3 separate regions of the Homo sapiens genome follow, and all the other regions are linked to region 2. The links come from fine-mapping of genetic effects on gene expression. A gene starts in region 2. Each other region holds a variant in brackets. All regions are shown on one strand. Distances are between the middles of the regions. Region 1 holds the start of LOC124900665 (a long non-coding RNA gene). Region 2 holds the start of WDR1 (WD repeat domain 1). Region 3 overlaps WDR1 (WD repeat domain 1).

What was found.
Region 1: its variant is fine-mapped to the expression of WDR1 in whole blood (TOPMed, PIP 0.99).
Region 3: its variant is fine-mapped to the expression of WDR1 in testis (GTEx, PIP 0.99).

Annotation. Positions count from the first base shown.
Region 1 is chr4:10,056,765-10,067,451 of GRCh38, forward strand. It overlaps LOC124900665 (a long non-coding RNA gene), which reads left to right and starts at 7,250. Exons shown (of 2, transcript XR_007058029.1): 1 at 7,250-7,330. RefSeq lists an enhancer at 6,579-7,193. The variant T/C (reference allele first, on the strand shown) is at 6,250.
Region 2 is chr4:10,110,743-10,121,429 of GRCh38, forward strand. WDR1 (WD repeat domain 1) reads right to left here and starts at 6,057. Exons shown (of 15, transcript NM_017491.5): 1 at 5,909-6,057; 2 at 5,371-5,492. The coding sequence starts at 5,924. It overlaps LOC124900666 (a long non-coding RNA gene), which reads left to right and starts at 6,347. Exons shown (of 2, transcript XR_007058030.1): 1 at 6,347-8,476; 2 at 8,585-8,735. It also overlaps the pseudogene RNA5SP155. RefSeq lists silencers at 843-1,137, 5,599-5,748, 5,829-6,238, 6,249-6,368 and enhancers at 2,581-3,081, 4,914-5,718, 5,369-5,518, 7,289-7,388, 7,469-7,558.
Region 3 is chr4:10,088,011-10,098,697 of GRCh38, forward strand. WDR1 (WD repeat domain 1) reads right to left here. Exons shown (of 15, transcript NM_017491.5): 5 at 9,701-9,881; 6 at 654-731; 7 at 283-363. Among named protein-coding and RNA genes, the nearest start is that of MIR3138, 15 kb to the left of the region's middle. RefSeq lists enhancers at 3,185-3,955, 6,270-7,040, 7,618-8,817, 8,222-8,711. The variant G/A (reference allele first, on the strand shown) is at 5,037.

The sequences.
Region 1 (10,687 bases), 54 kb before region 2:
CAAGTTGATACATTAAAAATAACCATCATAGGCAGCAATGGACAAATTCATTTATTAACAAGAGACGGGTGTGTGTGAGTTCATCTAGAATTTGGGCCAGGTTTCCATAGTTACTGCCTGAAACGTCAGTGTTATAGATGCCGGAGTGAGGCCACCTGTGGTTCTCATCCCTGGTCATGACAACCACATGGAGAGCTGTGAAAAGATGCTGAGGTCAAGGTACCCTCAGAGCGTCAAAGTCATTTAGTCGAGGGTGGGGTCAGGCATCGATAGAGATTGTTAGAGAACCTGCAACGTTCCTCCATGCAGCCAGGGTTCAGAACCTCTGAGCCGAGCAAATCCTCCCTCCAGGATGGTGACTTGGGGAGGTGAGCATGGGCTTTGCAGGGAGGTGGGCTGGATTTGAGTCTCACTTCAAGTTAGTAATGGGATGCTGGTACTGCCATTTCACCTCCCTGAAACTCTTGATAAATAAGATGCTGCCTAGAATGCATGCAGCCCCATCCCCCAAGGAGGAAGGAGGCCTGGTAGGTGTCATTGTCCCCTGCTGCCTGCTCCTGCCACCCCGCATGGTGTTAACAACTTGGGGTCTCCTCCCTTTCATTTTTAAGTTCCTGTTAAAATATAACAATGATGATGCTTTATCAATAAACGTATTGAGCTTTGAATTGGACACTGTGCTAAAGCAGGTATTGTCTTATTTAACCCTCACAATAACTCAACGAGGAAGATTCCATGATGGCTCCACGTTCCAAATGAGGAAACTGAGGCACAGAGAGGTTAAGCGACTGGCCTGGAGTAGATGCTGACAGTCTGAGATGTATGACTCTGACCGCTAAAGCTTTTTATGGAACTTGGGTCCCTGAGACGTAAATCAAGGTTATGGCCACTGAAAAGGAGGAAACAAGAACTGGCATAGGTTCCAGATCTTGCCATTGTGTTCGTAGAAACCCTAAAAAAAAAAAAAACAAAAAACAAAAAACAAACTCTTGGAAAATTAATGGTAGTTTAGCACAGTGGCAAGAGACTTGGTGCATATCCAAAACTCAGTCATGTTCCTGGTTAATAGCCCCAGTCCACAGAAATCTAAAAATAAAGAGCCCATTCACAATAGGAACAAAAATAAAATATAGGAAAAATTTGGCATGAAAGGTGTAGTACGTGAATGAATAAAACTACTAAACTTTATTAAGGGGTCAAAGAAGATTCAACCTTTGGAGATACGGTCTGTGTACATCATAAGTATTATAAAAATTGTATTTCTTTTTAAATTACCTATAGATTAAACGAATTCCTCTTTTTTTTCCAAATCAAAGTTGGGCATGGTAGTAATTTCTAAACAATTTGAAAATTTCCAAGTACAATATAAAGAGTGCCTTCTGAGTTCATGGCAACTGCCAATATCTCAGAAATGAGGAGTCAGTCATCCTGGGCACCTGAGTCAGTTCTAGATTTTATTTCAGACTCAGCCATCAATGGCAGTGAGATCCTTTTTGCTTGGATGTATGTGGGTGCACTCAGATCTAAATTAATCAGTTACAATAATTGTGTCACAGTTTTAAAATATTTAAATTGTGAAACCTATCATAGGTTTAGAAATACGTATCAAATGTATATGTACAATTACCAAACAAACACATGTAAATGAACACAGAGCCCCTGAAATCTGAAACTCTTGTGTTCTGGGATCCCCTGCCTGTGAGTGTGGGCAGAACATGTGACCTGCCTCTAGTCATACGGGGGATGGTAAAGGTGAGGGGATGTATGTGTTCCACATATGTGATTATGTGTTTCGTTACATAAGATTGTAACATGAGTCTTGGCTGGGTGCGGTGGCTCACATCTGTAATCCCATCACCACGGAAGGCTGAGGTGGGTGGATCACTTGAGGTCAGGAGTTCAAGATCAGCCTGGCCAACATGGTGAAACCCCGACTCTACTAAAAATATACAAAAATTAGCCGAGTGTGGTGGTGCGCATCTGTAGTCCCAGCTAATTGGGAGGCTGAGGCAGGAGATTTGCTTGAACCTGGGAGGTGGAGGCTGAAGTGAGCCAAGATCACGCCACTGCACTCCAGCCTGGGAGACAGAGACTCAGTCAAAAAAAAAAAAAAAAGATTGTAGCATGAGTCTTGCTGGAGACTCTCTGTCCCTTGCTGGCTATAAAGAAGCAAGATGCCATGTTGTAAGCCACCTTATATGGTAGCCACGTAGCAGGAAACTGAGGAGCAGCCTCCAGTCCTCAGCAGGCAAGAGACCAAATGGTGCTGACAACCACATGAGCTTGGAGGCTGATCCTTCCCCAGTTAAGCCTCAGATAAAACTGCAGCCCAACCAACCAACATCTTGATTATAGCCTTGCAGAGAGCTGTGCCCAGAGTCCTGACCCACAGAAAATGTGAGATTATAAACATCTATTGCTTCATTTGCTAAATTATTTGTTATCTTATTATTCACCAAAGATCAATAATATGGCCACTACTCAAGTTAAGCAATAGACTTTTACCAACACTTTAGACTCTCTCATGTACCCTTCCTAATCACAGCTCCTTCTCTCCTCCCCAGAAGCAAGCACTATCCTGATTTTTGTTTTGATCGTTCCTTTGCTTTTCTTTATAGATTTAATACCTATATAAGTATCACTAAATAGAATATGCTTTGCTTTGAAAATATGAGTATCAAGCACAAACGTAACCGTAGCAATTTTTTAAAAGGTCAGTGGGGTAATTTTTAACTTGAAAATGTGACTTTGAAATTGACCTTGAAAATAGTAATGACAAAATATCTTGAAAAATTACTATAAATTATTTGTGACATCATAGTTTTTATAAAAAAGACTTTTTAATGAAGTAGCAAGTTAAAAATATCTAGTTGAATCTTCACCTCACAGTGTGCTTGTGGCTGCACACACACACACACACACTTATACACACAGTGTCACACATCCACACACTTCCACATTCATGGCTGATTGATGGATAAGGACAAAGTAAAATCACAACACAAAAGAAAATAAACGTGAATATTCTTCTGACTTGGTAATTAATTTTCTAAGATTTCTAAGTTTAAAAGAAATAAAAAGTCATGAAGAAATTTACTGATAGATTTGACTACACAAAGATTGAAGTCATTTTACCAGTCAGCAACGTAAACATTATTAGAAAACAAAATTTAATCCATGAGGCATATTTATGACAAATATAAAATAGTACCAGCTCCTGAATACACATATGAAGAGTTCACACTTCAAAGTCTAAGACATTTACGTAAGGAAAAACATAGCCGAATAATAAATACATTAAAAATGATCAAACTTGGCCGAGTGCGGTGGCTCATGCCTGTAATCCCAGCACTTTGGGAGGCTGAGGCGGGTGGATCACCTGAGGTCAGGAGTTCAAGACCATCCTGGCCAACATGGTGAAACCTCATCTCTACCAAAAATACAGAAATTAGCCAAGCATGGTGGCGGGCGCCTGTAATCCCAGCTACTTGGAAGGCTGAGGCCGGAGAATCACTTGTATCTGGGAGGCAGAAGTTGCAGTGAGCTGAGATTGTGCCATCGTACTCCAGCCTAGGGGACAAGAGTGAGACTCTGTCTCAAAAAAAATAAAAAACAAAAAATAAAAAAAAAAAAAACGACCAAACTCGCCCATGCAAATTGAATTGCAGTGCCATACTAGCAAAGTTTGTTTCAAGTTATGATGCCTTAAGTTGATGAGGGTGGGATGAGACAGGCTGACCATTGAAAGGAACACAAATTAATAGAATATTTTTGGAGAGCAGTTCAGTAAAATTATTCCTGTCTTTCAAATGTGCATAGTCTTTGTCCTGGTTATTCCATTTGTAATAATCTCTCCTAATCTATTAATCCTAAATACAAGGTTTATGTTAAAACACATTTACCAAGACATTTGATTGGCAAACATGGAGATAATGTCGAAATTAGGGGAATAATTAAATAATGGTTTACTAGTTGGGTAAGATGCAGATATTTTAAGATGAGGTTTACTCATAGTTTGTAATGACAGAGGTAACTCATGGCCACAAGTTAAAACAAAATAAAGTTGGAATCCTGTAGTAGACTGTTAGCACCAGAGAGTTTTTTGTGGTGTTAGATCAGGATCAAATCCCCACTATGCACCTACTTGCTGTGTACCTTTGCGGTAGTTGCTTAATCCTTATGAGCCTAGTATTTTTGCTCATAGGTTTGTTTTAAGGCTCCAATGAGATGACTAAATACAGGAGGTCTTGCCTATTCCAGACACTTGACAAACGTGTCCTGCCTCCTCTTGCTAATAACGCTGAACATGGGATGATGTGACACAGAGAAAGGGACAGGATCAAACATTACATATAGACTGATTCTAAATTTAAAATACATGTTTGTCCACAAAAAGTTTGAAGGATAGAAGTAATTGTTTTAAACTTTCAATTGAAAGGAAGTGAAAGTGTTGGCTAACTATATTTCCATAACAGTGTGGCTTCTGTCTTGGTAGGGACTGTGACAATCTTGTTCACAGGGTCCTTGTCCATAATCTTAACCGGTGGGAAATCTCACACCAATCTTATTCCCTTAGGGACTGACGTATGAAAATCTTGTGATGTTCCACCCCAGATGGGAAATAGGGTTTGGTGTGATTTGGGGGTTGACAAAATGACCCCCTCACAATCGCACCACCTGCAACCCTGGTAGTCAATGTGCATTGGCACCACCAGGGATGCAAAATGCAGATTCGCAGAGAGATTTGGGTTTGGTAGGTCTGGAATAAGGCTGGGAAGTGCGTGGTGCGCGCGTGTGTGTGTGTTACAGATAGTAAAGTTTATAGATCTTAAGTATAGAGCTCAGTGCATTTTTACATAAGTACGTGTATAACCACCATTCAGGTCAAGATATTGACCATTTCCAATAACCCAAAAGCCTCCTTGATGCCCCTTCCCAGTCAATAACTCCCAGCCCCACTCCAGGTAACATTATTCTAATTTCTGGCCCTACAGAGTAGTTGAGCCTGTTCTTGAGCTTCCTATAAATGGAATCACACAGCCGATACTCTTATGTCTGGATTCTCCTGCTCAATGTCATGTTTATGAGATGAATCATGTTGACTGTATTGGTAGTTCCTTCACTTTTATTGCCCAATATGGATAAATCACAATCTGTTTGCTCCTCCATTCTCCTGTTGATGGACGTCTAGGTTGATTCCAGTTTGGGGCTATTGAACAGTGCCGCTCAAATGTTCCTAACCATATCTTTGGCTGGGCATAAATGCTCCATTCTCCTGTATATTCTTAGCCATGGAATTGATGGGTGCAGGATAGGCATATGTCTAATTCTAGTAGATGCTGCCAAACAGTGGAAATCCATATTTTTAAAATTGAAAATTATTTGTAATTGACACATAATAATTGTACATATTTATGGGACACATATTATATTTTGATACATGTAAACAAAGGTATAATGTTCAAATCAGGGTAGTCAGCATATTCATCACCTCAAATATTTATTATGTCTTTATGCTGGAAACATTCAAAATTCTCTCATATTTGAAACCATTATGAAAACAAATTATCAACTACAGGGCCATAGAATGCTATAGCTTATTCCTCCCATGTAGATGTAATTTAGTAACAATTAACCAACCTCTCCCTATCCTCCTCTCCCCATCATCCTTCCCAGCTTCTAGTAGCTACAGTTCTACTCTTTACTTTTCTTTCTTTTTTCTTTTTTTTTTTTTTTGAGATGGAGTCTCATTCTGTCACCCAGGCTGGAGTTCAGTGACGTGATCTCAGCCACTGCAACCTCTGCCTCCCAGGTTCAAACGATTCTCCTGCCTCAGCATTCTAAGTAGCTGGGACTACGGGTGCGTGCCACCACGCCTGGCTAATTTTTTGTATTTTTAGTAGAGACGCGGTTTCATTGTTAGCCAGGATGGTCTCGATTTCCTGACCTCGTGATCTGCCAGCCTTGGCCTCCCAAAGTGCTGGGATTACAGGCATGAGCCACTGCACCCAACCTATTCCTTACTTTTATAGGCTCAACGTTTTTAGCTTCCACATACAAGTGAGAACATGTGGTATTTACCTTTCTGTGCCTGGCTTATTTCACTTACCATATGATCCAGTAATCCCACTACTGGGTATATATCCAAAGGAAAGGCAGGGAAATCCATTTCCCAAAGAGTTGTCTGCACTCCCATGTGTATTGCAGCACTATTCACAATAGCCAAGATATGGAATCAACCTGTGTCCA[T/C]CAACAAATGAGTGGATGAAGAAAGTGTACATACACCTCGGAATACAAATTTGACCACGAGAAAGAATACAATCCTGTCATTTGTGGCAATGTAGCTGAGCTGAAGGAAATCCGTATTTTTATAAGTCGTTACAGATAGGGGTGGTCTTGGACCACACTTTGAGAAATGCTTCTTGGATAAAAGCCCCATTATATGGACAAATATATTTCCTTTAGTCCTCAGTTCAAGTAGAGAAGGGCTTGTTTATACGGAGATACCAGCTAAGTGATTTGGGGAAGTGGGGAGAATGAGAAATCAACTGAGTGCCACCCATTAGCACCCCTTCGGAACAAATTATTGCAATTTACCTCTTTTGCCCAAGAGAAAGAAGCTGAGAACAGAGAAGCTTTGATAGGATTTGATAGGGAGAGTGAGGCGCCAGGCCACCGTGTCCAGTTAACCAAGCCTCCTCCCACCCTGGCCATGAGCTAGAATAATGCTCATGTATTTGCTGGTTAAAGGAGATGGCTTGGGGACCTGGGTTATCCCTGCAGGGAGCAACTATCTCCTCTGCTCATCTTAAACAAGATAATTGCAAAGCGGTTCCCTGCCAGCCCATCCTCTTAACAAAGAAGGTGAGATAAAAGAGATGGCATTCCTCCTGCTGGGCCCAGCAGGCTTGACAACCAGTGCCAGTCATGGGGAAAATGTCCCTTTCAGCCAACTCGAGATCTTTCAAAACAGACCCAGGCAGTTTCTTTGAGGGCTGAAAGCCAGGAAACGGGTTCCTGTTGGCCGAGGCTTGGAAGGAGGGCCTGCCTGGTCCGTTGGCCCATACCAGGCTTCCTTAGCGCCTCTGCTAGGAGCCAGTTATCCTGCAGGCTGACTCAGCCTCTGCCCAGCCATGATCTGAAGCTGCTCTCTGCTGTTTTAAGCTGAGCACTGCAACCAGGGACCTCAGACACCAGAGACAATGCAGGCCTCCAGAAAGCAGGAGAAGGACTTCTAAATCAAGGCTGGCAGGAGGAATGGGAAATGGGCATTCAAGGACATGGCAGTATGCTATGCTCTGTACATCAGGACCTCATGGAAACCAGAAAGGTAGGATGATAATTCCTATCCATGCCAGGCTGGACCTCATGTCCCTCATCGGGCTCCCACAGCTGTGTGAGCATTCTTTACCAACGTGGCACTTCTGGAATCCCTTGTTTACCTTCTTCTCCACTGCTCTATAAATGTAGTGAAATTTCCAGGTGTGGTGGCTCATGTCTGTAGTCCCAGCACTTTGGGAGGCCGAGGTGGAAGGATCACTTGAGCCCAGGAGTTTGAGGCTGCAGTGAGCTATGATGGCACCACTGCACTTCAGCCCAGGTGACAGAGTGAGACCCTGTCTTTAAAAAATAAAATAAATGCAGTGACACAAGACAACCTATGTCTGTTTTATTCTCAAAGCTGCGTGTGTCCCCAAAGCCAAGTGAGGTGTCTGGGCCTAGTTAATGACCAATGAACATTGGCTCTGAAGGAGTGAAATTACACCACTCGGGCATATTGACACTAAGTTAAAGCCACTTGAAAAACAGCAGGTGTGGCCGGGCGCGGTGGCTCATACCTGTAATTCCAGCACTTTGGGAGGCCGAGGCGGGAGGATCACGAGGTCAGGAGATCGAGACCATCCTGGCTAATATGGTGAAACCCTGTCTCTACTAAAGATACAAAAAAAAAAAAAAAAAAATTAGCCTGGCGGGGTGGTGGGCGCCTATAGTCCTAGCTACTCGGGAGGCTGAGGCAGGAGAATGGCGTGAACCCGGAAGGCAGAGCTTGCAGTGAGCGGAGATCGCTTTACTGCACTCCAGCCTGGGTGACAGAGCAAGACTCCGTCTCGAAAAAAAAAACAAGAAAAAGAAAAATAGCAGATGCAAGAAGATCACTCTGACCTTCATGCCATTTGTTAAAAGCAAAAGATGAGATCCCTATGTGAAAGATGCAACAGTCTTATTCTCAAAGATGAGAAGCTAAGATGGAAAGAATTCTGTACCAACCTTGTGCAAATAACTCTTACCTTTTAAGCCTCCCCACATCATTTAGTTGCTTCTTCACAACTTACTATTATTTGTCCAATTCAGTATATCTGACTACTTCTTCAGGACTTTATTTCCTTATGAGGGTACCTGTGCTACATAAAACTTGTATTTAAAAATGTGCATGCTTTCCTCCTGTTCATCTGTCTTATGTCAGTTAAATTCTCCAGCACAAGCAGGACCCTAAGAGTATGGAAGTGGAATTTTGCTGCCCCTACAGTTGATTACATGAGTGAATAAATGATTGAGTGAATTTTGAATTATAACGAAGAAGCTAAATATCTCAGTCATGGTTTTTCTTCCTAAGAAAATTAATCTGTTAAGATCACAGAGTTGTAACAACAGCAACAAAAACCTAGCTCTTTAAAAATAAAAAGGAACTCTTTTCTGAATTAGCAATGTCCGGAGAGATTTTTGGTTGTGACGACTGGGGCAGGGGGTACTACTGGCATCTAATGGGGGCCAGGGATGCCGCTGACACCCTGCAATGTACAGGACAGCCCCCACACAAAGAACTGTCCCACCTGAAATGTGAGTAGTTGGTTGTGCTGAGGTTGAGGAAGCCAACTCAAGGAAGTCACCTGCCGGAGGGATGCTGTTGACACTGCTTGCTACAGCAAAAGCTGCTGCTGAGAATGTGCTCCAGTTGAAAGCAAAGACTGAAAAACTGAAAAGAGCCAGGCGCGGTGGCTCACACCATAATCTCAACACTTTGGAAGGCTGAGGTGGGCGGATCACTTAAGGTTAGGAGTTTGAGACCAGCCTGGCCAACATGGTGAAACCTGTCTCTACTAAAAATACAAAAATTAGCTGGGCATGGCGGCATGTGCCTGTTAATCCGAGCTACTGGCGAGGCTGAGGCACAAGAATTGATTGAACCTGGGGGGCAAAGGTTGCAGTGACCTGAGATTGCGTCACTGCACTCCAGCCTGGGCAACAGAGCGAGACTCCATCTCAAAAAAAAAAAAAAAAAAACCAGAAAAGAAAGGAATAACTGAAAAGAGCAAGAGCCACTTAGAAGCCAGATATGGTGGTGCGTGCCTGTAGTCCCAACTACTCGACAGGCTGAGATGTGATGATCCCTTGAGCCCAGGAGTTTGAAGCTGCAGAGAGCCATGATCGCACCACTGCACTCCAGCCTAGGCAACAGAGTGGGACCCAAGAAGTTTTTTTAAGCCACTTAGAGAAGGTTTTACAAGTTACATGAGCAAAAGCTAAATAACTAGTACATCCATGTGCCATAAAGTGAAGAAACGGATGAGGTCTCTATGGGACATGTCAGCTAAACCCAAGAATGTGTTTGTTTCTTGTGGCTGAGACAGTGATCAAGGCAGCTTTCCTCCCAGGGCAAAGACTGTGGTTTGTTTGCGGCCATTTAATTTGGCAAAACCTGAGTTTTGATGAATACTTTGCAATCTTCAAATAATATTCATTTTGTTTCCAAATCCAATGAACTAGAGGCTGTAATTGAAAGAAGAAGAAAGGGAGGGAGGTAGGACAGAGAAAGGAATAGAAAGAGGGAGGGCAGGAAGGCAGCCATGAAAGAAGGCGTAATTGTCAAAAATCCAAGTTATTTGAGGCATACTGCTTGACCTGACTTTATGCAGTACAAACAAAATCAGGGTAAGCTAGAATTCAGAAGACAATGGTACCACTGTGTTTCTCTCTGGAGCGTTCTCAGAAGTGTGACCTTTTCTAATCCCAAACTGCTTAAAAAATGATGTCTCCTTGGGGTGCCATTTAGATTAATCTGTGATGGGACCAGAAGCGAGCTAAGCTGATGATTCTAATTCAATTGCCAGTGAAATGGTGTCTGTCTCCATCTGTAAACGTCCTCATCCTGCTCTCAATGGGGCCACATTGACGGCTGCAGCCAGCATTATCCCTTACAATCCTTTTAATTTTTTGGCTGCATGATGTGATCTTCTGTGAAGGCAGCACTAGTTCAAACGAAGTATTTCTTATACAAGAGCACGAGCCCTCAGTTACGTTCTTAAGAACTCATTCCTTGCCTGTGTGCCTAAACCACCCTAGCTAATAAACTCCCCTCAAATGTGGCTTTCCTCATCTCACCAGCCTGGTGGCATATGCTGGGGTGGGGGCGTGTCATGCCATTTTATGCATGGGGGTTCAGGGTCTGTGATTACCTTGTCCAAGGTTAATCAGTGGGTGAGAAGCAGGTGCAGGACCCCAGGCTATTCTGTTCACAAGGGTAGTGCTTTTTTCATCAGACAACACACATCTCTATGGCAGTGTCCAAATGGTGCCTAACGTAGAAGGTGGGCCCCGAAAGTGCACTTCAGTTTATACTGGCCACTCAGCCCGCATCTGCTTGCAGCAAGCTTAAATGTGTCTGACTGCGGCCATCTTGGCTCCCTCA
Region 2 (10,687 bases):
AACCTTGGTACCCCTGGCATTTGGGGCTGGACAGTTCTTTGTGGAAGGACGGCCATGTACCTTGTCGGATGTTTGGCCACAACCCTGACTTCAGATACCAGTGGCACAAAAATGTCTGCAAACGTTGCCAGATATCCCTCAGGGGAATGAGGTGGGGGAAATTACCCCTCCCTGAAAATCACTGATTTTAATCCTGGTCCTCTGTGGCTTAGGGTATGGCTTGCCAAGACAGGGGCTTAGTGAACATGTGTGGGAAACGTGAGAGCCAGAGATGGCTGCACCACGCAACGGAACCTGCGCTGACGCCGCCTTCATCTTTGAGCAGCTTCCTAATTGGCTTCCCTGCCTCAGATCTCAGATACAGAACTTCTCCTTACCGTAGGCTGGATCTGATTACTTGTCTGTGAGACCTCTGAATGGCTCCAGTGGCCTTCAGAGCAGGGCTGCGCTATGGTAGGGCTGTGTGAGCCACCTGCCACCACTGCACACCAGCACTTCTCAGCCTGGGTCCTGTCCACTCCCCTCACGCTCAGTGCCACAGTAACAGCCCATAAGCACCCGGCCCTTCGGTCCTCCCAGATGTGGTCCCATCTGCAGAAGCCCAGCGTCCTGACTGGCACCTGCAGCCACTCAGATTCTCCTGAGATGAAGGCCCCCCACCACCCTCTGCTTCCCCTGCCATCAGGTGGTCAGACTGAAGGCCTAGAGGTTCCTGGCTCTGCACCTGGCAGGCGCTGCTGCCAGCTCGTTTGCACCCAGGTGATAATCCAACGCACCACTTCCTTCTGCCACCTAGAGTTTATTTCACTCCCACCCAGGACAGTGAGCTCCATGTGGGCAGGGCCTCCATCCTGCACCCCCACAGGCCAATGGCCATCTGGATACACGCAGGTAGTCAGCAGGCGTCCAATTCCGGAGAAGCAGCTAGGTCAGTCCTCAAGCCCTCTGTCATGCCACCATTACCCCCAACCCGCAGGAAACACAGGTGAGTCCTCTGCATGTGAATGGTGGCAGCTCACACCAAGGGAAACCAAGAGTGAGCCCAATACCCTCCCCAACCCCCCACTTGGTCTGCCCCCTGTTCAAGGAGAAAAGTCCACTGATACTGCGCCTGGGTTCCCAGCAGTGTCAAATTGCTATAAACCTTGCACTCCCGGAAACTCAATTTTATAGACATCATTTTTCCAAATGTGTATTTTAGTTCTGGAATCTAGGAACTGGATACTTTAAAAACCAGGCCCCAAACTTGCCTGCATAGCAAATCTGCTGGCTGCCTGGCAGCACACAAGAGGGCCTCTGTTGTGAGGCAAAAGTTGCTTTTTTTTTTTCTTTTTCTAAACAGGGACTACTGGCACTACTGGCATTTTAGGCTGGGTAATTTTTATTGTAGGATGGTCCCGTGCCCTGTTTAGAATCACAAACAGGTTCGTTCACAGCCATTGGGGGTGACCCTTCCCAGTCTTTGCACAGAGGTCATAAGAGGCAGAGGTGATGCAGGCAGGGTAAGGAAACTTAGAAGGAACCACCCCAGACCTAAGGAGGTACCAGCACCTGCAGGAAGCCTTCCTTAGACCCCCGAAGCACAGACTATCCATCCCTTCTCCGTGGGGAACTAATGTCTCTCAAACACAGTGTACATATGGTTCACTGGAATCCCCTTCTTGGAGCTCTCTCCTTCTGGAATATTAGTTTCTACATGGCCACCATTATAGTCTTTCACTCTACAGAGGAGAGTTGCCTCTCCAGGTGAGGCAACGAGATGTGTTGAAATAAACAGGTAAGAAACACCCTTTTTCTACAAGTTTAAGAAGTGCCATTATGCTGGGTTCACAAAACAGCTTTTAAGTCAACAAAATAAATGACAGAGGGGGCTCCAAGTGCAAAGCTGGCAACGGTGCTCGCCTCTTAGGTATGAAAGGCGATTCCACAAAATTTAGGTCCGGCAATCTACACTGAGCTGAGCTTTCCTTGTTCTCATGCAGTAAGACCTCAGTGGCTGCCTATTATCTTCACGACACAGCCTGGTTTTCCAGGCTTTTTAATCAATGAGTAACTCACTGAGCACCTACTGTGTGCCAGACACTCTCTTAGGCGAGGACACGGCAGTGACTGAAAGAGAGGGGAAAGCCCTGCTGGCCTGGAGCTGATGCCCAGTTAGGGGGACAGGCAGATACCTATGTACACTTGTAGGCAGCCGTAGCCTGCTGCTTGTTAGCTTGCTTCCTACTTATTGTCAGCAATGAGAAAGACAGAAGGCCGGGGATGGAAAATTCTATTCCGGGGACACCCCTCTACTAAGGTGACTACATCTAAGTATAAACCAAAGGGAAAGGCCTAGTGTGGTGGCTCACGCCTGTATCCCAGGACTTTGGGAGGCCAAGGCGAGCGAGCAGATCACTTGAGGTTGGGAGTTCAAGATCAGCCTGGCCAACACGGCGAAACCCCGTTACCTACTAAAAAATACAAAAATTAGCCAGGTGAATTGGCACGTACCTGTAGTCCCCACTACTCGGGAGGCTGAGGCAGGAGATTTGCCTGAACCCGGCAGGTGGAGGTTGCAGTGACCCAAGATCACGCCACCGCACTCCAGCTTGGGCGACAGTAAGCCTCCACCTCAAATTAAAAAAGAAAAACCAAAGAGAAGACAGGGAGCAAGACTTGCAGCTATCTGAGAAAATGTCCAGGCAAAGGCAATAACTAGCAGGTACCAAGACAGATGTGTGGCATGTTCAAGAAGCAGCAAGGAGGCAAGAACGCTGGAGCCGAGGCCACGGTAAGGACTCTGGCTTTCACCGAGGTGGGAAGCCACTAGAGGCCTGTCTTGTGTTTCAGCCACTCCAGCGAGTGTTGTGAACAGACCCCCAGGGCAACAAGGGTGAAAGCAAGGAGACCTGTTTGGTTTTCGGGAGTCTGGGGGCAATAAGTCAGGTGGGGGAAGATAGCTTAGTCGTGGGTGGAGGCAGAGGAAGCCAGGGAAATCTGTTAGATTCTGAAGATACTTTGAATGTGGAGTCAGAAGGATTTACTAAAATTAAAATGTGGCGCAGTAGCGAAGCAGAGAGTGAAACAGGAGTCCAAGGTTTGGGGCCTGAACAGCTGGAGGAACGGTGTTCCCTTTTAGGGGAAGAGCACGTGGGAAACACAAATTTGGCTTGGAGTATGTATGTTGAGTCTGAGATGTCAATGAGACATGTTAGATCTTCCATGATCTGGTCCTCCATTTCTTCCCTCTTCCCTCCCTGAGCCTGCATTCCAAACAGACCATCATCCTTCCTGAACGGTCATGCCAATTCATGTCACTTTTTTTTCCAAGAGTACTTTGCCCTAAAAAAAATCGTACCCACCTTTACTTGAGTACCCAGTCCACCCATCCAACTAACAAGAGACTCAGTGCCTGATCTACATCCAGCCCAGGGAGGGCTATATTAGTAGCATCTCGTGCTGACCTGGCATTGCAGAAACTTAAAAATAATTGAGAAGGGAAACAGGGTAACCCCTGAGAAGAAAATGGCAAACCACGGGGAAGGGGTAAGAATACAGAGCTCAGAAACAGGCAGAATGGGTTTCACAAGCTGGGAAATGCTTTCTGCAAAGGGGTGCCTGTCCCTGAATGACCACTCCATTAGAAGCAGCTCCAGTTACTGGCCTGCCTCACCTTGCTAAGTCTGACTCCTCTTTAGAGTAACGGACCCATGTGGGGTGGAAAGAGATGCTACAGTTTAAGAAGCTATCACAGGGCCAGATGCACAGCAGGTACTTTATGTGAGGCCCCCTCCCTGGAAGTCAATGTGGACTGCAACGACAGGGAAGGCCTGGTTAGGGGCAAAACGAAATATCCTACTGCTCTGTATCCGAGGACGTGTTAGTGGATTTTATTTGCCAAACTACTAAATATCTCTTTAGGGTTGTCTCAATTTTTATTTTCTCAAAAGCCTCAGGACCTGCCTTCGGAGACTTCCAGATCATTACCATTAGATCCCTGGTGATTTTCTCCAGTTCTAAGCAAGGCCCTTCGGCTTTCTAGGAATCTGTGTGACTAGCAAGTTGTTAGCACCTTCAAAGCACATTCACACCCGCCCACCCCCTCATTTGAGGGGCCCAGCAATCCAGGGCAGGTAGAGCTCTGTCTTCCAGCAGAGGAACAGCAGCGACTGCCTGGGTTAACGAGACAGATGCGGGCAGAGCCAGCAGCTCTTCGGACCAAGAGGCTTCTCCTTTCACAGAGAAGGAAACTGAGACCCAGAGACCCCTTCATTCCCTCAGCCAGTTGCTGGCCTCCTGGAGGGCAAGTGTGTCCGATCAACAGTCCCAACCTACCAAGGGAAATCAGGCTGACTTTAAGTTGACAACCCTTGTATGCCTATGGCATCAATCAAAACATACATCTTTGTGCCAGCCGCCCCCACTAAGCACAGCACAGGAGAAATCACCCAATGGCCGGGCCGGCACCTCCAACTCCCACCCCACCAATTCCATCACTCAGGCTGAGGAAGGGAAAAGCAAAATTTAAGCGTGTAACCCAGGAAGGGAGGGAGACTGACAGACTGGGTCACCCCAACAATTACAGAGGAATAACATGAATTTGCAAGGATTTCCCAAGGAGCTGGCTCTAGAAGCCTTTTCAGCCTGGGTACCGGAGGCTTGCAGAGAATGATTCATGGGAAAACACTGCTTCCTGTTTTTGCTTTGGGGCTTAGATCCATGGTGGCAGATCTGGCTGGCCCAGAGGCCCGGGTGTTTTTCCGGGCTCTGCCATACTGGAAGACCAGGGTATTAACAGCGAGTTAGCTGAGTGCCATTCCATTCAGCAAGGGCTCAAAGTGCACCAGGCACCGCTGGGCTTGAGGGACGCCAGCAGCTCATTCATTCCATCTGCCCAGCCAGCAGGCGAAGCGAGAGTGGTCATCATCTCATCATCTGTTTTACAGACGAGAAAACTGGGGCTCAGAGATGCCCAAATCGCCAATCTTCTCAAGGTCACGCAGCGGCCGACCGGGTCAGTCTGATCCCTCAAATCCGGAGCCCTTGCTTTTAAGGAATGAACTAATCTAATCTCCCATCCACGTACTAACCAGGCCTGACCGTGCTTAGCTTCCAAGATCAGAGGCGATCCGGCGCTTTCAGGGTGCTATGACCGTAGACAGAAACGAACTAAGACTCAGTTTCCTCATCAAGAAGGAGCAGACAAGGACCTGGGTGAATCTGAGGCCGGCTTCCGGGGCTCCGAGGTGTGGCTCCCGGTAGAGGGGGCGTGGCGCCCTCACCCTCCCCGGGCCAATGGGCAGGAGGTGAGAAGTGGAGAGGAAGGCGAATTATCCCATCCCAAGGTGGCTCCGGAGCAGAACCGCGCCCGGGGTAGGGGGTACTCACGTCGATGTTCCTTAGGATGACGCACTTTCCATTGGTGTACAGAAAATTGTTGCCCTTAGGGTCGCCGCCGATGATCTTGGAGACGCCCCTCTCCACCTGCGGGAGGCTGGCGAACACCTTCTCTGCGGAGACACAAATGCGGCGGGGCATGTCAGGGCAGGGCGGGGACGGCGGGGACAGAAGGGAGAAGGAGCCCCGGACCGGTCTCGGCCGGTCACCTGTTGACTGCGCCGGGAGGGCGGCCTCCACTTTCCACGAGCGCCAGGAACCGCGCGACTTCCTGGTCCGCGCCCCGGGCCAGGCCCTTGGGGGCAGCGGGGCTCCTCCGGCTCGGCCCACGGCGCCAACTTGGGGGCGCACCCCCCGTCGGGGGTCCCGCCCTGCACCACCGAGGGCGGCCCCGCCACGCCTCCGGCCGGCGCCCGCACCCCTCCCCCGCGCCGAGGACTCCCCCGCCACCCGCACGGCGCCTAGGGGCCGGGGACCGGGGCCGGGGCAGCGCGGCGGCCGCTCGGGGGCCCCGCGCCGCGGCACTTACTGATCTCGTACGGCATCCTCGCCCACTTGTTACCGCGCCGCGCTCGCCGAGAGCCTCCGGGGCCGGCCCGCGCTGCGAATTACACCTCGCCGAGGCCGAGCCCGGGGACTGGAGCCGGAAGGCGGCACCGGGCGTGCCGGGAGTGGAGTGGGCGGTCCGAGGCCGGGGCTCAGAGGCCAGCTCGCGCCTGCCCTGCGCGCTGTGGTTGCGGACGCCCCGAACCCGGAAGCGCGGTCCCGCGCGCGGCTCGCCCCCAGCTTTGACCATATATAGTCAAGCGCTCGGCTCGGCGGCTGCGGTCCCGGCGAGCCTGCGCGGACCTGGCGCTCCCCTCCCCCGCCGGCCCCGGCCCCGCCTCCGCCTTGCTCGCCCCGCCCCGGAAGTGACGTATAGCACGCCCCGCGGGCCCTTGAAAAGGCGGCGCAGACAAGCAGCCGCGTCAGAATGCTTCTGGGAGTCGGGGGGTGGGTGCCTTTCTGTTGCTAGCTTGTAGGAGAAGCTGGGCTGTAGGAAGTTTATTTGCGGGGGGGTCTTAAAGACGCTGAAAGTACTGGCGGGCTTTGGTGGGGGTCTGGAAAAACCTCTCTGTACCTGTGACCGCGTTGCGTGGCGGGCGCTCCCCGGCCTCTCCTTTTTGACCGGTCCCGGGCGTTGCCCAGCCGCCAGTCCTCCTGCTCGGGTTTTGTAAGCAGGAGAGGGATGCTTTTTACGTCTTCTTAAAGTACGGTTAAGTGCCCTTGCTTGAAGTAGTTGCTGGCAACAAGAACGTAGGGGTTACTCTTTGTTGGGCCTGAACTCGTGCTTTTTCTCTCAAAAGTTGAGCTTTTGAAAGGCAAAAAAGGCGTGGGGGATGGGGGAGCTGTCGGTCTTAAGGAAGTTAAAGGTTATTTCCTAAACAAAACAAGTCTCACTCCTAAAACCAGGGTAGTGGCTCAGTTGTGGCGGGAGAGCAGGGGCTGTAAAGTGTCCAAGTTTCTAGTCTCATCTTTCAGTAGGATGGGTACAAGCTTTCCCCTTGGGGCTCTGGGGGCTGGGAGGGTTGTAAAAGTGGGAGAAAGCAAAGTATTTGGCGGGGTGCGGGCGGGTAGCTGAATGTTGTTGTAAGTGGAAGAGGAATGCTGTTGGCGTCTTTCTCTAAGCACGGTTAAGTGCTTTTTCTTGAAGTAGTTACTGGCAACAAGAACGTAAGGGTTACTCTTTGTTAGGCCTGAACTCGTGCTTTTTCTCAAAAGTTTAGCTTTTGAAAGGCAAAAGTGGGGGTGGGGGCGCTGCTGCTTTTAAGGAAGTTAAAGGTTATTTCCTAAGAAAGCAAAACAAGCCCCACTTGTAAAACCCGGGTAGTGGCTCAGCTGGAGAGCAGGCGCTGTGAAGTGTACAAGTTTCTAGTCTCATCTTTCAGTAGAATGGGTACAAGCTTTCCCTCGGGGCTCTGGGGGTGGGAGGGTTGTAAAAGTGGGAGAAAGCAAAGTACGTGGGTGGGGGGTAGCTAAATGTTGTTGTAAGCGGGAGATGGATGCTTTTGGCGTCTTTAAGCACGGTTAACTGCCCTTGAAGTAGTTGCTGGCAACAACGTAGGGGTTACTCTGCTGGGCCTGAACTTGTGCTGTTTCTCTCTCTCAAAAGTTAAGGTTTTTAAAAGGCAAAGGCGTGGGGAGAGGGGTAGGGGAGCTGCTACTTCTAAGGACGTTAAGGGTTACTTCAGAGCAAAACAAGCCCCACTTCTAAAACCAGGGCAGTGGCTCAATTGTGGAAGGGAGAGCAGGGAATGTGAAGTGTCCAAGCTTCTAGTCTCGTCTTTCAGTAGCGTGGGTACAAGTTTTCCATTGGGGCTCTGGGGGCTAGGAGGGTGGTAAAAGTGGGAGAAACCAAAGTACTTGCGGGTAGCTAAAAACTCTGAAACCCACGCTGTGAGCGGTTCCTGCTTCTCTGAAAGGTCTGTTCTGCTTAAGGTTGTATCAAGGTTAGTCTCTTGCTACCTACTTCTGTAGAGCAGTCTCTCGTGGCTCACCTGGGTTAGTGGCCATGTTGCCTGTCTCCTATTCTTCCTAACCTTGTGTGTTCTCCAGGTAGCTGAGTGATCCATCCGAAGTAAAATATTCCTCAGCTTGTCTGTAGGGGCTCCAAGTTTCATGAAGTAAAAGCTAGTCTTGAAAACGGCCCATTAGGGTCCTGGATGACAGTCTCCGGGTCACTTAGACTCCGTTGTCCGCCTCCCCTCATCTGTATCATCTTTGCCTTGGGTACTGGCTTCGGAGGGTGTTTTCCTGAAACTCTTACCTGAGATCTACTTGGCTGACTCCTGTGTCCTTCAGAAGTACTTAATTGCTCAAATGTTAGTTGATGAGTGTCACCGGTCTCATTTTAAATTGCAACTTCAACCCCTTGCAAACACTGCTTCTCATTCCCGCGTTCCCTAACTTTAACTCTCAGGAATAACCCTGACACCTGGAAGATGCTCCTAGGGATGACCCCACTCCCCACCCACAACTGTTAATCAGGAAATAACGGATATGAAAGTAGCTCTGCGAACTGAGGAGCCGTGGAGAATGTACAAAACAGATTCCTAAAGTAAGATACGCAGGCCCGGCTTGTAGGCCGCTGCATCTGCTTTGATAACTTAGAACTCATCAAATCACCTTGAGACCCTTAAAACAAATGGTATAATTGCATTCACAGGTAGTGCATTCGTGTAACAAGATTAAGAAAACGAAGGACCAACTTCAAGCTCTTGCAAGCTGGTAACCTTTACACTCGTGCATAAAGCCTTGCTGGAGTTGACACTGAAAACTAAACAGTCGAACTTGAGTAAAACATATCCAAACTCCCAGCTGCTGGGCTCTACAGCTTATTTTTAGCTTGAAAGTTACATGTTGGAGCTGCAGAGGCTTTATGGTGGTGGTGGGGGAGCTGTTTGTTCGTAGTCACTTGAGTCTATATGAACGTGGCAGGAAATCTGAAGGATGTGAAAGGAAAATGGGAAACACCAGGGTGTTCCAGGATTTTCCCTGTGGGGCGCGAGCTCAGTTTGGTGTTGTCAGCTGTGGGAGCTTTAACACTTGAACCGTCTTTACTGTGGGTCTAGCCTATTCGTTGGGCTCCCCTAGTCACCACTCATGCCTTCGTGTATCCTGTTGTGTTGGGCCCCCACTGAATTAAATAGGGATGGCACCATGTTCGAGAAGCCGAGGCGACCCAGAGCCAATGAACACATATGGTGTATGGAGGGGACTTGAATACAGAGTGGTCCAGAGCAGCCAGCTGGGACAGAACTGCGCTTCAAAAAGCAGTTGATACAGATCAGGTACACCTACACTCCCAAGGTGTGGCTAAGCCGCTATCAGGTGTCAAGCGTGTAAGGGTCACTGCCAGGATATACTTGAGTTGCTTTCAGCTGTCATAACTCTCTAATAGGATGGGGATCCTGAGGTCTGCATACACCAGTGGTTCACATCTCTGAGGACCCAGCTACTTCTCTGGCCCTTTCTGGAACCTGTCTACTTGGAGCTCCGTAGGAAGGGTCTGAAAGGCCCCTTACTCGCACTGAACGACAGCCAGAATAAGACTAATTTGCCTTCCCCTTCCCTGCTGATTTCTCTGGGGTGCTGCTTCCGATAGTGACCAGCGTCCTTGCATCTCCAGCTGCACTGACCAGAAATCTCACCCCCCACTTAGGTTAAAGCCTTCACTAAATCTAGTTGCTTAGAACCTCTGTATCAAATCTTTCTGTAGCCACAGCCCTGCTTTGGTGCTCTTTAACCTGGGTTATTCTAATTTCTTCCTGACCAGTTAATCTGTATCTGCTTGGAGCCCCTTACTGCAGCCAGAGAAACTTTAAAAGCTTGTTGAGCCTTGGGTAGCCTAGGTTTCTATCTTGAGACCGAACATCCTCCCTGGGCTTCTGAGACACTGGCATGCTGAGGCTCTGCCTGGCTCAAGGAGCAAGTCTCCTGGGTCATTCTGTTCTGGCACCTGTCTCTGGGTCTTCACTGATGCCTCAGTTTAAGGCCAATCCACCCTCAAGCTATACTCCCATTTTGTTGCACACTGGTTTGCTTATGACTATGGGGTTCATCAGCGTCTCGACTCTCCCCTTTTTAGGGATTGAGAGCAGGGACCTTGTTGCTCGAGCACTTGTTGCAGGGGCCCACCCAGACAATTGGAAACAGAACGCAGGTGTGCCAGATCTATGAACACCTGCGTGCTTTTCAGACAGTGGCAATTCTTCCTTTTGCTGTGTGAGCGAGCAACATAAGTATCACCTGAACTTAATTCTAAAGTGGCAACAATGTGTTCTTGAAACTTCTAAGCAGCAGCAGCTTAGGATACTTAACTCTTCGACTACCTTTGGGGTAAACTAGCTCCAATTGGGTAACTTGGGCAAACCGCTAACTGGCGTCAGGTGCTAAATGAGCTGTTTAACAGCTTTCCACTCAGGGGAAAACAAGTTTGGAGTGGGTTCTGAACGCTTTATGTAACGCAAACAGTGGGGGCGTGTGGATTCCTGGAATGCACCTTGTCCTCTGAGCACGCTCTGAGTCCTGGCTTCTAGAGCCACAAACTGCAAATACGTCAGATGTGTGAGGCCTATACTGGAAGCTTTGGGGAGGAACAAAGCCACAGGAGAGCTGAATTTCTCTCCAAAGCCTGTCAAGCTGCTTCCTCACTTTCAACCCTCATGGGTTCTGTCCAGGCTCAGGAAAAGGGGGCTTTCTCTTTCCTGTTGCTTCAACTGTATCAACCCCCTAGGAAGAGCCCTATGCAAGGGTAGCGCTGCTCCCG
Region 3 (10,687 bases), 23 kb before region 2:
TGTCCACTGCGACTGTTTGAGTAGGACAGAAGGAGCCCAGAGAGAGGGTGGGACATGAGTGAGGCCAAGGACAACACCCGCCTCCAGGTCTCCCGTTCCAGCCACTACCTTCTCCCATCACCTTATTGCGACCTTAAAGCTTTTCTGGGCAGATATAAAACCGCCCCGACTTATAGCCCCTCATTTCAAGTTTTTGTCTAACTCCGGAGTGAGTGTGGATGGACTGACACGTGGACTCGGCCAAATTCCCACCACTAGGCCGGGAAACACGCTCATACTCACTGCGTAAATCCCACCGTCGTGGGCCTTGCTTCCGCCCAGCGCGCACACCTTCTCCCCAGTCTTCCCGTCATAGATGTATATCTTCCAAGAAATAAAAACATGTGGGTCATGTGTGTGTGAACACCCTCTGGAGTAAGCAGTTTCTCCATGGACTGTGGCTGTAGAAAACCGGGGCTCACAGACTAAGCTCCCAGTGTGGTTTAAAAGCAGACATGCATTTACTGGGCTCTGACGACGAGTCTGCAGATGTGGGGAGGGCGATGTCTAAGTTCTGCATGTCAGGACTAGCATTAGGCAGCCTGCGGCTCTGAGCAGTCACGGGAGCAGGCAGACAAGCCATTCCCCACCCCAAAACCCATCCCAGTTCTTACCTGGCCGTCAGCACTGGCTGTGGCAAATCTGTTCCCATCAGGAGAGAATCGCACACAGTTGACAAAGCGGCTGTGGTCCTGCAGGAAAACAATTACCTGCCTGATGAGGGGCCGCAGGCCTGACTCTAGGTTCAAGAATGCTCTCTATGAAACACAGCTTGCAGCTCCAGCTGTTCATCAGTGTGAACTGTTAGTCCACTGGAAAATTTCAGAGCTTAAAAAAACATCCTGGGCAGTCCCTTAGTGGAGGGGCAGGAGTCTGCTCCAGCCTGCCTGCCATGCTGACCGCTCTACCTGCTGGGAAAGCTGATTAGCCCGAGCGAAGGCAGACCACCTCCAGTTATGCCCCCCCCAGTGAGGTGCCCCCAGCAGCTGCCCTCTTCCCTCTGGGCTCTGAAAGAGCTCAAGCCCCAATCCTTAAGCTTCACGATGGCTGAGACCAGGAGGCCTCTTCCTGGAGGCACCAGCCCTGTCTGGCTCTGTTGCCCAGGCTGGAGTGCAGTGGCACAATCTCTGCTCACTACAAGCTCCGCCTCCCGGGTTCACGCCATTCTCCTGCCTCAGCCTCCCGAGTAGCTGGGACGACAGGTGCCCGCCACCACGCCTGGCTAATTTCTGTATTTTTAGTAGAGATGGGGTTTCCCTTTGTTAGCCAGGATGGTCTCAGTATCCTGACCTCATGTTTCCCCGCTTTGGCCTCCCAAAGTGCTGGGATTACAGGAGTAAGTCACTGCGCCTGGCCAATAATTAACTTTTAAACAAAGTTAATGATTATGACCTTCATCAAGAACAAGAGCCTGAGCGACTAAAAGGAAATGACATGACTTCCAGGGGCGACTCTGTTACTCGAATAAGGAAATGAATGCATTCTTTCCGCAGTCAACAAGAGTTTGTATCAGAGACTGATCCTTAAATAAGCAGTTGTAAAGCTGCCAACACCTGCCCTGCCCTCTTGCTGCCCACCTGCAGGCGGCGCTAACCCGGCAAATGCACATCCAGTGCTAACAACTCTCTTGGCACAGGAAGGGCTCGCTGCTCAGCAGGTACGAACACTAACCTTCAGGAAAAGCAATTCAACCCCAAGGCGGATAAGCTGCCCCGCGCTCTAAGTAAATCACGGACTTAATTTTAAAGCATGAGCTACCTGTGTGGGGGACCTGCCTGTGTTTGATTGTGTAATGTTTTCAGTTGAATTGTGCCTCTCCAAAAGACATGCTGAAGTCCCAACCCTGGGACCCAATGAGACCTTATTCAGAAACAGGGTCTTTGCAGATGCAGTCCAGTTAAAATGAGGTCATTAGGGCAGGCTGTAAATCCAGCAGGACTTGGTGTCCTTTTAAGAGGGAAATCTGGACACAGATACAGAGTTGGGGTGAAGCTGGAGGCAGAGATGGGAGTTCTGCTCACAAAAAGTAACCCCCAGGGCTGTCAGTATCTGGGAAAGACAAGGAAGGACTCGGAGTGCGTCCCTGCCCACACCTTGACTACAGACTTCTGACTTCCAGAGAATAAATTTCCATTGTTTAAGGCACCCAATCTGTGGCTTAACAAACTTTGTTATGGCAGCTGCGGCACACTAACACATGTCATCAATGCTGCCTCTGACACTCATGTAATAACCCACCAAGGTGAGCTGTGCCCATTTCACCAATGAGGAAACATAGGCCCAGAAAGAGGAATCAGGTGCCTGGGGGTCCCAAGGGCCACACTCAAGGAAATCGATGTCCCCACAAAGTCCGTCAGAGTCAGCAGAAGATACAGACACCGTTCAGTCTGGCAATGTCCCCAGGGCAGGCAGTTCTCGTAGAGAGGCCACTCCCCGCCCCAGAAATCTCTCTAGGCCCAAGAGTGATGCGACCCCAGACCTGTGGCACAAAAGCAACCCTGGGCTTCCTGCACTTCAAAGATTAAACCATTTCCTCCAGCCAACAACCCAAACTTGCTTGCCTCAGGTAAGCCCTCCTCAGGGTGCTGCCAAGACCTGCTCACGGCTGGGGTCAGGCTGGACACAGGCCCAGCAGGCCCTGGCCCTGCACCTGAACCAGGATCTCCCACCTCATTGACCCGTGTTTTAACTTAGATGAAAGCCGGAGAAATCACACATTCTGACAAGGGGAGTCCCAGTGCTCCTCGGGAGCTACTGAGGGCGACGACAGTCACGTTTCCATCCCAGTGGATGAGCAGATTGTCCTCCCTGCCTCATTTCAGGGAGTGCTGTCATGGTGCTTGCATTCCGTTCTATGACTGAAGAGCTCGTCCTCTGTAGGTTGTGGTCACCGCCCAAGAGGACAGGGATGGAAGCACCAGGCTGGCTCAGTCTGAACTTGGGCTCAGGTCTGTGATCAGCTCATGAGCGATGGGGCTGGCGAGCCCTTTGCCTGCCCCCCGCACCTGGGTGCTGCAAGGCTTGGCCAGGCAAGGCAGTGCCAAACTACAAGGCGTGCAGTACCCAGGCGGGCCCAGGGCTCACTAGGAGATGGAACGGGGAACACAGGACTGGACGGTCGTCTCTGGCTATGGTGCTAGAGGTCACCCTTCCTTGTGTTTAAGCGCAGTTCTGCATCTTGCTTCTTTAGTTCCTTTTGTACCTTTTTCACTAGTTCTAAGGCTGGTCTTCTTTGCTTAAATGGTCTGTGTTCTAAGTTTTCTAGCACTTCTAGGTATGTGAAGTTGGGGAAAGCAGTTTCCCCAGAAGGCCCGATCCACTCAGCTGCTGAGAGTGAAAACCAACTTTCCAGATGGGGCTCCAGGGCCCTCCAGAGACGCTTTACCCCCCGAGGGGCCATGGAGAGCCTGCGGGCAAATTCTTCACAGGAGAACACCAGGCCTGGAGCAGCGGGTAACTCAAAGCCACATCACCTGCACGAATCTGGTCTCCAGTTTCCTGTCCAGAGCTCTCGTCTCAGCTGCGCTGGCTCCTGGGCCTTGGGCAGCTGCTCAGCAAGCCTGGGGGTGCTCCAGCCCAGAGTCATCCCAGAGGTCAGATCCCTAACTCCGCAGGCCCATTTGCATCCCCCCTTCTGCTGTTACCCACCATGAGGGAGCCGTCATGCACTGAGGGCCTGTTCCCGTCGGGGTTAGCCGATGGGGTCCACCTCCTATCTGTGTCAACATGGCCCACGGTCCCTTGTCCATGTCAGTCCATAGGGTCCACATTCCCTGTGTCAAAGGGCCTCACAGGGCAGTTCCCGAGAGAGCTGCAGGAAGGAGCCGGCTGCAGTGAAGGCAGTGGTGGGAGGGCCTGAGGCAAAGCACTTCTAGACCCCCTGTTGGGCGGGGGGTGGACAGGGGTGTATGCACCACTACTCCTTCCAGATGAGGCCACACAACCTTGACCATGACATAACCACAGCTCGAATCCTAGACCTCTGACCAGCACATCGAGTTCTCTCGCTGCCGAACTCCGCTTCCTTGGCCAGCACAGCCTCGCCTTGCCGCTGACTTCGCACTGGCTCCTCCAAGCCAGCCTGAGCTTCCTTGAAGTGCAGTGGGCCAGGGAGATGGCTGGGCCTGGCTGACCCCTGGGTCCTTCTGACGAATGAGTTAAGAACTAAGAGAAAAGAGCTCACCCCAAATGCCCGAATCACCCAAGCCCAGATGAGTGGGTGGGACAGTGGACGCTGATGGCTCTTGCTACAAAATGGAGGAAACTAATCAGCCACTGTTCAATTCCAACCTGTCACAAGTGCCCATTTCAGTGGCTCCCTGAGGTCAAAACATGGACATTCCTACTCCAGTTCCAGGTCCCAGAAGCGAGGACATTCCTGCTCGCGCAAACCCCAGGACCCCAAATCCAAGTCTGTGGTTCACCTCTGCCGACGCCTCCCACAGGCTCTGGCAGGGTGGTGTCATGTGTCCCTCCCTGGCCCCAGAACCCAGCAGGGGCAAGGGAGGGGCCCGGCACAGTCCAGGGACACAGATGCCCCTCGAGTAGCTCATCCCCATCACCTTTTCCTGCACCTCGAGCCAAGGAGTCCAAATGCAGACACTGATGTCTGCTCCTGAAATAGCCCCTTCAAAGAGAGAAGCCGCGAAAAGCCCATTAACCAAAAAAAGCGAGGGCTAAAAATAGCCCTTTCCACACGGAGGCCCGGCCAGTGAACAAAGAGGGAGAGGGATTGGGGAACCTCCCGGGGAGTTCAGGGGCAGCAGCTTCCTGAGGCTGCCCTCACCGGCCCCCTGCCTCTGCCCCACCCCAGCCAACCAGCGGGGCTGCAGCAGTCTCAGTCCAGCCTCATCCCTGGTGGACAACTGACGGTGTCCGGTCCACACTCCTGCCTGTCCTCCCTTGCAGCCAACACATAGCCAAGACTGACCTGTATCAACGAGCCCCCCTCCCCACAGTCCTCACTCCCTCCCACCAATATGCTCCCTCTCACCACC[G/A]AGGAAACCGAGGCTTGAAGCACTGAGGTCATAATTAAGTACCACACCCATGTCAACATCACAGAGCGACAGAGCGCTGCAGGCCCCAGCTGGCCTGTCTCCAGCACACACATGCTCACTACCTACCTAGTCAGCTCAGGAACCCTCTGGGAGCCCACCCCATTCCCCCCAGCCTCAGCTGACCCTGTACACAAGAGGACCACAAGCCCACCCTTAGGCTGTTCACATGCCTATGAGCTGGTAGAAGGGGACAGGCTCTCGGTCCCCTGTGCCCAGTCCCACCCCACACAAGCCCAGCACGGGCCTCCACGACCCTTGGTCAATGGGTGTTCCCAAAACACCTTTACACCGTGACCTGCGAGGCTGGCTCTGGACCATCCTTCAGCCCACCCATCCCCCGCAGCAAACTTCCCTGCAAAGTGCCCTGGGGCAGCCCTGCAGCCCGGTCCACTTAGTTGGGCTGAGGGGCACGAAGGAGCTACCCACCCAACTGCCTCTCCCGTCACCCGGGACGGGTCAGCTCAGTCACCATGTTCCCTGGAGAACAAGGACCATATGAAGGGACAAGAGGCTCATCCTAACTAACCGTCCTTGGGGCACCTACTGGCCATGTGACCTGGGCCAGGTCACCCTCCCTGCTGTCAGCCCCCAGTTTTCAGGAGTCAGCCATCAGCCCAGTGAAGAGCAAGGCCAGTCGACAGGAGGGGTGGCGCGTGCTGAAGACAAGGGAGGCGGTCCTGCATGCCCATCACAGGGGCATGGCCCAGGCAGCCACCATACATGCCAGAAGGGCTGAAACATCTGCTCTCTGCCCTGTCTTGAGTGAGGAAATATGAAAAAGAAAAACCACCAGAAACCTTGCCTGTTTTGAGCTCAAATTTTCCTTATCTATCAGGAAGGCAGCACTTCCGGTAACAGCCACAGCTGAGGTTTCCAGCCCTGCTTGGCTCCAGCCTCAAGTGGGAGAACTATGTGAGGTATGAGGTCCCCGCAGGGCAGAGGCAATGGAACAGAGGGAGCAGTGGCACCCCAGTGAGGGAAGCCAGAAGTCTTCCGTGCTGAACATTTTTCCACCTACAATCACAGCTTGTTAGATCTGGCAGTGAGTTCTCAGTTCTGCATCATAAGGCTGAGCCCCCAGGACGACATGCTGCTCTAAGTAACCATTTCATTAGACACAAACTATCCAGTGCACCACCAACTCCTGGGACCTAGGACATGCACACAGCTGTGAGCCACACTCCAGAGGGGGCGTGTGGTCATCCTAGACCACCAAACCAACTGCTCACCCGACCGGAGGAAGCGGATGGCCAGAGAGGCAAAGAACCTGGCCCAAGTAATGCGCATGGCGAAGGCAGACAACAGAGAGAAACTCAGTGGGGCCTTTAAACCCATCCAGGAGTACCTATCCCAGGAGCCTGCCTGGCATGAAGACATCCCCATGGGTGAGATGGGGGAAGGCAGGGAGATGGTCTCGCCACCCTCCCTTTTTCAGGCCACGGTCAGACCCTCTGAGGGGAACCTACCCCTGGGTTCGCAAAATGCCAGTGCTGGAGACCCGAGACCACGGTGCCCAGGGTCTCCTTTCAGAACCGTTCTCCTGTAACCCCGGAAGTTACTTCCGCAGGTCACCTACCGCGTCTTCAATGTCACTGGGTAGGAATGAGCCGGCACCCAGGCTTATTCCAGGCCAAATGTTCCTCCACTCCCATCTTCCTGGAGCCTCATTCAGGCAAATGAAGACCAAAGCTGGGCTACGGTCCCTCAGGACGAGGGGCACACAGGGAATGCTGCTTGCATTTCAGCTCAGGCACAGCATCATGGAGTTCTGCTTCAGCTTGTACTGAAACGCCTTCAGAACATGCCTTGTTCCTTTTCAAGGCAGCAGCTCCAACACGACCCAGCTGGTCCCTCCGCAGTCATACGCCAGTCCCTCTCCCACCTGGGTAACTAGGGAAGCACCTGCCACCCCAGCGCTGCACCCCCAAGCTCAGGGCAGCTTCCTGGTCCCGGCCACAGGGGGCCTCTGCAGGGAGTGGGTGCAGAAGGCGCAGATGAAGACAGGCCCGAGTTGCCACCACAGCTGCTCATTCTCAGGAGGCGAGGGGCGGCAGGCAAGGCCACCAAGGCCTGAGCGCTGGTGCGGAGGCAAAGGCAGCCCAGACTCAGCCGTCATGTGCTGCAGAATGAAAGATCTGGGGAAAAAAGACCACTGCTATGTGGATTTCACAGCAAGTGGAACTTAATTCCCTCTAAAATAAAAAATGCCCACATATGGTTTTAAAATCTTTTACTATAACAGGCTCAATTAATTCCTGAGAACTTCCACATCCCAGGCTTTCCGACCACATCAGAAGAGCCCACATACGGGAGGAAGCCCAGCGATGCTCAGCCCACCATGTCCTCAAAGCTGACTGTGGCTGGGCCTCATGTTAGCACTCACACCTCCTCTCACTTCCCCCAGCCTGCACGCGCTCCCTTTGTCTTGGGGTTGGTCATGGAGAGCACGACCGCAGCTTTCCTCTGGGGTCCGGAGGGCTTAAGTGCAGATACACACCAAAGTGTATCTGCAACTCAGAAGGTATTTGGGGGCAGGTGTGGGGTCCCTGAGCACCCTTCCTGTCCTTCCTATGCGTGGGCAGTTGAGTCCGCACATGTCTCCTGAGCATGTGGATGGTCACTGCTGCCTCTCACACCCTCCCTGTGGCTGAGGGTGCAGCACGCAAGGGTCACTGTCACCCTGTTTCCGGGAGGGCCCAGAGGCATGACTCACCCGAGGGGGGCACAGCCACCTAGCTCTGTGCCAGGCCACAGCCCTTTCTATTTCTCCCAGGTCCTCAGGCAGGGCCCATGGTTGTGGGTTCCACAAAAGACTTCAAGACACATGGTGGTACCCACCCTGGAGCTGGGCTAGCTGGGCAGACATTTGTACCCAACACTCCTGGGCCAGGGCAGTGGGGTGAAGTCCTTTCTGAAGTTAGAAAGGACAACTAAAGAGAAAGAATGTTCTGGACAAGTCCCCAAGCAAGCACACAGGGGCACAGCAGCCTGGTGAAGAAGACAGGCTCCAGCCCACCCCTGGAACAAACTGGTGCCCCTGACCCTGCTGAGCACCCTGTGCTGGGTTTAATGCACAGCTGCAGAGTGGAAATGATCCCTCCCAGGGCAGGCCAAGGAGCCCCCACCCACAGCCGGCTTCTAGCTACCACAGAAGTCTCTGAGCTGCTTCCTCCTGCCCTGGGCTGAGATGGGGTGTGCAGCTGACTCAGCATTACTCACCCTGCTCTGCAGTGCCTCCACCCTAGCGAAGAAACATGGCCTGAAGCCACAGCCTTCAATACAGCTCCCAAAATAGCCAGGTCTCCACTACCTACCCATTAGGTGGTAGCCACAAGAGCAGAGTCTGAGAGCTGCCGCGTGTTCAGCTGCATACAGGGAGCCTCCCTATGCTTTCACCTGCCCAGCCAGGCCCAGCTCAGCCTGCGGTTCCGTGACAAAATGAAGCCTGTTTCACTACGAACGGGGCATCCTTGGAAAGCCCCCTCCTGTACCCTAAGCCAAGAACAGTCTCTGGAAATTCTGCTCACTTTGTGGGTCCCGTCCTCGCCCTTTCCAGCTGCACTGCGCAGGCTATTTATGATTCATGGCATGATGTCACTAAAATGGACAGTGCTCCTCACTGAGCCACTTTAAGGACATGATCTCATTAATCCTCCATGAGGCAGACAGTGAAACCACTGACGGTTCCAAGAGGAGTCCCGAGAACTTGGTCCAATCTGCAAACACAACCTCCTCCAAGGACATCAACAGTCCCTAAAATGTGCATTTCCGGGTCCATTGTTCTTGTCCATCCTCAGCGCAAGCACAAGCGGGATGGGGAAAGCCAGGGCAGAGCCGTGGGGTTGTGCTGAGACTGGCTGCTGGGCTCCTCCCCTCACTCCTACAAAGCTGGGGCAGGAAAATGGGCATCACAGATGCTCCAGACCTGCCAGGTGGCTCTCCTACTTCAAATTCATAGTCAAAACCCTCAGATGCTGCTGGCCCCGGCACACCCCCGTCTTGCAGAAGGGAGAAGTGAGGAGGCTTGGCAAGGCCTGGGTGCCTAAGGCGGGGCGCATGCACGGCATGGGCCTCTGAGATGCTGCCAGCTACACCCAAAGCCTGCCGCATTTCTGGCACATTTCTTCCACAAAGTATCTTTCAGTCTTCTAACCGTTTGTCACTTTGCAGGCGCATCACTGCCCTCACTGTCTCTAGGAGAGACCAATCTGGATGTCCCGCAAGCTCCCTTCCTCTGCCACTTTGGTGGCTCAGCTAACAGCAGGCCCTGCAGGCTCCCCTCTCTAATGAGCACCTCCAGCCCCAGATGCTTGCCTGGTTACACGGTCAGGGACATTCCTGCCCCAATCCCCGACAGGCACACATCATCCTAGGGCAGGGCCCTTCCTTGTGGGAACCATCCATGCCCAGCTGAGGGCCTGGGGAGGACGAGTGCTGGGTGGGGGAGCCCTCCCTCTCTCTGCACACCCCTGGGAGCCCACTTCTGTGTATCATGGCATACGTGGCATGTGCTGTGGTCTCTGCCATCAGCATCTAAACAGGCTCAGCCTCTGCTAGCCTCATGTACAAACCACAAATTTCACCCAAAAAGTAAGTTCACTTACGCCAATTGTGAACTTGAACTTGAATGGGGGTCCCTCAAAGAATGCCGCGCAGTTATCATCGCTTCCCGTGGCCAGCCGGTATGGCCGGCTCTGCTTGATGTCCACGCTGTTGATGACTTTGTTGTGTCCTGTAATCTCGCCCACAGAAGAGCCACTATCCCAGAGGAAGACTGCTCCAAACCTTGACCCAATGACACAGGTGGAAGACAAAAAAAAAAAAAAAAAATCAATCCCAGAAGGCTGGTAAGCAATCTGATAGCTGAGCTGCCAGTGCACAGAGGATGGAGTGACTGTCAGCAGGCAGCTCAGAACGCCACAGGGACAAATGAGGGAAGCACTGGGGTTCTGGCTCCACAAGGCATTTGTCCAAAGGACCCAAGAACAAGATGGGGCAAGCCGGCGCCTTCGGGAAGGGGATGCATGTGTGTGTCTGTGGGGCCCCACGCCACAGGGCCCAGGGCTATCTTTACAGCTTCACCATTCTCCTTACAGTTCTATTGGGAGGGAACAGTTACCATCCCCTACAGGAATGAGATGCCCTGCTCTTGGCTGACATTCAACAAAAACACTGTTTTAGTTACTATTTGCTACTGAAAAAAGAAGGAATTAAGACCAACAGGAATGACTTGAGAAGCCATGGAAAAACACCTACTAGAACATGTACGAGAAAGTGCCATTCAGTGAAGAACAGACATGCCACTGTCAAGTTCAAGGGGTTATGGCCAGCCATGGTGCTGCAGGGGGGACTCTGACTCTCTTGAATTAAAAAAACCTGGGTTTCGGCACCAACCTCACCAGTCACTAGGCCCCTGAGGTCAGTAGCCACCCAGTGCCACCCAGCCAGCATCCACTGCCCCTCCCTCCTCCATCAGAGACCCTTGGGGGAGGTGCCCAGCTGGAAGAAACAGTTCAGCCTCCCTGGCAGCTTCATGGGGCAGCTGCTGTGAGGGACCCCGAATAGAAGTGCTGTTGCTCTTTCACTCTGTC